Regions from separate parts of the Homo sapiens genome. Here region 2 is linked to region 1. A link means that fine-mapping ties the variant in region 1 to the expression of a gene that starts in the linked region. Tissue or cell type: whole blood. Region 1 holds a variant in brackets; the other region holds the start of a gene. All regions are shown on one strand. Distances are between the middles of the regions.

What was found. PIP is the estimated chance that this variant, and not a neighbour inherited with it, causes the effect.
Region 2: PTPRC starts here. The variant in region 1 is fine-mapped to the expression of PTPRC in whole blood (TOPMed, PIP above 0.99). The same link has a PIP of 0.9 or more in lung.

The regions. Positions count from the first base shown.
Region 1 is chr1:198,709,509-198,712,203 of GRCh38, forward strand. It overlaps PTPRC (protein tyrosine phosphatase receptor type C), which reads left to right. Exons shown (of 33, transcript NM_002838.5): 11 at 179-316. Among named protein-coding and RNA genes, the nearest start is that of PTPRC-AS1, 44 kb to the left of the region's middle. The variant G/A (reference allele first, on the strand shown) is at 1,378.
Region 2 is chr1:198,637,655-198,640,349 of GRCh38, forward strand. PTPRC (protein tyrosine phosphatase receptor type C) reads left to right here and starts at 1,386. Exons shown (of 33, transcript NM_002838.5): 1 at 1,386-1,483; 2 at 1,572-1,687. The coding sequence starts at 1,615.

The DNA of each region.
Region 1 (2,695 bases):
TTTTCATAAAAGTTGAATGTAAAAATTATTTTTAGGGTTTTTTATTATTTTGGTAATTTCCACAGATGTTTCAATCTGATAAATATTAAATAGAGAATTATAAATGTGAAATTAGAAAATAAATGTGTGCGTGAAATATTGCATCGATATATTCATTCGAAATATTTCTTTATTTCAGGTAATATGATATTTGATAATAAAGAAATTAAATTAGAAAACCTTGAACCCGAACATGAGTATAAGTGTGACTCAGAAATACTCTATAATAACCACAAGTTTACTAACGCAAGTAAAATTATTAAAACAGATTTTGGGAGTGAGTATGTTACTTGCATTTATATGTAAAATTGCTTCTCTCTTCATGTTCTTATAATTATTTGAGAATCATAGGAAATGAATTGTCTTTTTGCTGTTTTTGATACTTTTTAAGCATATGCTTTTTATTTCAATGAAGCGCAATTTATCTATTTTTACTTCTTTTGCTTATGTTTTTGGTGTCGTATATGAAAGTCCATTGCCAAGTCATGCAGATTTATCCATATGTTTTGTTCTAAAAATTTTATAGCATTGGCTCTTAAATTTAGCTCTGTTACCCACTTTGAGTTAATATTTGTATATGGTGTGAGGTAACAGTCTAATTTCATTTTGTTGCATATGGCCATCTAATTTTTCCAGCGCCATTTGCTGAAAATACTATTTATTCCCCCACTGAATAGTCTTGCCATTCTTATCAAAAATTAGTTGACCATAATGATGGGTTTATTTCTGAACTTTCAGTTTTATTTTATTGATTTATATGTCATACTTACACTGTCGATTACTGCTGCTTTGTAGTAAATTTTGAAACTGGAAACTGTAAGTTCCCCCAAATTGTTACTTTTCCTCAAGATTGTTTAGAATATCTAAGGGAACTTGGAATTCTGTATGAATTTTAGGATCAACTTTTCAATTTTTATAAAGAAGCCATCTGGGATTCTTTCAGGGATTGCATTGAATCTGTGGATAAATTTGGGAAATATTGCCATCTTAACCATGTTAGTCTTCCAGTTCATGAACACAAGATATCTTTCCATTAATTTATGTCTTCTTTAATTTATTTTCAAAATGTTTTGTAGTTTTCAGTGCATTAGTGTTATAATTCTTCTGTTAAATTTATTTCTAGTTTAAGTTTATTCCTGGTTATAATGCTGTTGTTTTCTTAATCACATTTTCAGGTTTGTTACTAATGTACAAAAGTACAATTGATTTTTCTGTATTGATCTTGCAGTCTGTCACATTACTGAATTTGTTTATTAATGATAATATTGAGAAATTTTTGACAAAACTTATAAATGTAATTCTAAATTTTGTTTTGTTTTGATTTTGAGACGGAGTCTC[G/A]CTCTGTTGCCCAGGCTGGAGTGCAGTGGCGTGATCTCGGCTCACTGCAACCTCTGACTCCTGGGTTCAAGCAATTCTCCTGCCTCGGCCTCCCAAGTAGCTGGGACTACAGGTGCGTGCCACCACGCCCTGCTAATTTTCTGTATTTTTAGTAGAGATCAATCTCCTGACCTCATGATCCGCCCACCTTGGCCTCCCAAAGTGCTGGAATTACAGGCATGAGCCACCATGCCCGGCCCGTGATTCTAAGTTTTATGTAAAAAGGATAGTTGAAGGCTAAAGAGGCTGCCTAAATCCTTGTCTCCTCATACTTCTCCAAAATAATATATAGCTACAAGAACAGCAAATAAAACTATGTAAAAACTATATCCTCAGCATAACTAGAAAATTTTAATGTATTTTTATTAGTACCACAATTATTACATTCTTTATAATCAATGCAACAAAATAGAAATCCCAGAAAACTATGTTTTATATTTGAAAACAGCACAAAATGTTTTCAGTGGGGGAAAAATAGTCTTTTCAACTAATGATCCTGGTATCTCTGTAGAAAAAAAATGAACATCAGCTCTCACCTCTCAACAAACACAAAAATTAATTCAAAATGGATTCCAGACCTAAATACTAAAGCTATAATTTAAAAAATTCTAATCAAAGACATAGGAGAAAATGTGTAGCTTTAGCAAAGATTTCCTAGGGCACAAAAGCAAGAAACATAAAACTTTTTTGATGAATTGGAGTGCATAAAAATTGAATATTCCTGCTCTTTGGATGAGGCCACTAAGGAAATAAAAAAGCAATAAATAGTTTGTAAAAAATCAAAATTAATTTTTTCAACAACAGAAGTTTTTCCAGAATATACAGAGAGCTCTTTCAGCTGCAAAATAAGGACTAAAACAGCTCAATTGAAAATGGACAAACATTTTTAATATATACTTCACAAAAGAGGATACACAGGTGGTTAATAAGCACATTAAATGATGCTCAGCATCATTAGTTAACTGAGAAATACAAATTAAAACAACACTGAGATGATAATACTATACATCCATTAAAATGGCTAAACTTAAGAATACGGATACTACTAACTATTGGTCAGGATGTGCAGCCATGACCCAGGAATTTCACTCCAGGTATTTACCAAAGAGGAAACATGACAAAGCAGATGCATTCATAGTAGCCAAAACCTGGAAACAGCCCAAATGTGTATTCACTGTTGAATCCTAGGTAAAATGTGGTGTATCTTTACAATAACTACTGATAATTTTTTAAAATTCTAACTATGACACATGCAACTAAGTGAATGAATCTTCAGAAC
Region 2 (2,695 bases), 72 kb before region 1:
TCTAAATATAGCTTGTCTACATCCTAGCTGCAAGATCTTAGGCAACTCAACTAACCTCTCTGAACATCACAGATAAAATGGGGAATAATAACATTATCTAGCTCAAGGGTATCGTACAAATTATACAATATATGTAAAGTGCAAAGCATAGTTCCTGCACATAGTAAGTGCTCCATAAGTTAAATATAATAATAATCATAGTAAAATAATATTCTTAACTACAATCTTATTAAAAGGTTATTACCTAGAGTTTAAGCTGTGGGGTTATTTCCATTTGCACAAAGTGTGATAGAAATTTGGCTCTGTAGTTCCTAGCAGCCAATGTAAGAGTAAAACAAAAAAGTTTGTAAGTATCAAAAGATTTATTTACTTAAATATAAGAACCCTACAATAATGCTTCCAAACTAGGGTTTGCAGAATTACCACAAGGGCTCTGTCTGTCTAAAAGTCCCCCAAGCATTATCTATTGTTCAAATAAATGAGTTGCACATGTGTGTACTTTTATTTTTAAAGGCATATAGATATTGTATTAATAAAACCAATTCATCTAATTGTATTGTTGAATTTATACTTTTTGCCAGTAAGCATTTTCCTAATAGATGGACTTAACTAAGAACATCAGAATGGTGAAGAGCATTGTGTTAATACAATTCATTGTCTTATTTGTTAAAAAAGTTGAAAAAGTATTGCTGAGAAAAAGGAAACAAGTTAACTTTTGTTAAAGGTATCTCTTGGTTTTCACTGTCCTTTCCCTCATCAGTAGCGCCAAGAACATCTTAAGTCACAGAAACATTAGTTTTTGGAAGCAGGGTTTGCTGTAACTATAGTAGAAATGACATTCTGATTCCACTCCTAGCTTCACAAGGATATCTGTGAAAGATTTGGGGCAAAACTGTTAAGCTGTCTGAAAGTGCTTTTGCATAAGAAATGGGTTTTACTGCTAAAACTGTCATATTGCTGAGTTTTGAATGCCCTAATGGTAAATGATACTGGGTTGCCAAAAATAACCAGATTAGTAGTTTTTTCATTCATTTGGCCGTCTCAGTAAGTCAAATATTGATACTTTCTACTAAGTCATCTTGCCAACACCCATTTTGTTATACTTATGCTGAATCTGTTTGTCATCTCTTAAGTAAGAAAATTATTGATTATTTTGTGGGGATTTAATTTAAAAAAAATGGTAATGGATACTGTAAAGGAGCATTATTTGGATGGTTTAAAAACATCTTCCTTGATGGGAAAATCTTTTAAAAGGCTTTCTAACTTGGTGTAATTACTTGAATTAAGGAAGTGCAATGCCATTCTACTGACTTAGAACAACTTTTTTGACTTCCTGCAAAGAGGACCCTTACAGTATTTTTGGAGAAGTTAGTAAAACCGAATCTGACATCATCACCTAGCAGTTCATGCAGCTAGCAAGTGGTTTGTTCTTAGGGTAACAGAGGAGGAAATTGTTCCTCGTCTGATAAGACAACAGTGGAGAGTATGCATTTATTTATTTACTTTTACATTTTTGATTCGTTTTTACAGAGAAAAACTTCTACAGAGATAACAATTATTTTGCTTTTCAGAAGGACGCATGCTGTTTCTTAGGGACACGGCTGACTTCCAGATATGACCATGTATTTGTGGCTTAAACTCTTGGCATTTGGCTTTGCCTTTCTGGACACAGAAGTATTTGTGACAGGTAAGTACAAGGATATTAATATTTTTTAAATTATTTTTTCTCTTTTGGAGGAATGTTTGAAATAGACATAAAAATAATTTAAATGTGTTGGTAACTGGAAGTGAGAAGCCTGCTGTAAACCATCAAGATTGTTGTCTCAGGGAGACATAGCTAGTTGTGTGACAGAATACATTGTTTCTGTTTACAAAGACATAAATGTTTCGGGACAAAAAATACAATTTTAAAAGGAAAGCAATGTCTATCTGTATCTTTATTTACAACTGTTCAAAGATATTACAAAAGCAACATTATTACTTAACTTCCAAAGTGACAATAACACACATTTATAAAAGCCTGAGAATTTTTTAATGATAAAATAAGTGAGTTTTTATTCTTTTAACAAATTTGATCTTTTAAAAAGTCATAAAACAGCTTTGGTTGTATGTAAGCCACTCCCTCTTTTCAGACCTGAAGTTTGCTTCCTCAAATTTTGAATTTAATTGACATATTTTATTGAATACTTGGGTATATAATAGTTCAAAAATATATTGAGATATTTAGTAAAATATTAACTTTCTGCAATTTTTATCACAGAATGTATTTTAAATCAAGTTTTTAGTTTCTTGTTAATAGTTTTAATACATTTTTGCTTTAGAAATTCTTGTGGAGCCACCGCCCTTCCTGGGTGGTGGGTAAATATTACAGCCTTGATGAGATAGAAATATTTAAACTCTTAAAAATCATGCAAATGCTGTATTCAGTAGGAAAATGCAACTAGTTGGACTTCCAGTGCCTATTAAAGTTTGAAATCTTTGCACATTTATGGTCTATTCAATGGATAGTTCTTGAGCGGCGTCAATATGAATCATGAGTACATTTCAATAGATTATAGAATGTAACTAATAATTAATATTTAATATTTCTCTTTATGATGTAGTATCTAAAAGGACATTGAAAATAAAATTTTTGTAGAAATTCCAAAAAGTATAAAAAGTATTTTAAAACAACTTGCTTATTACAATTCACTTT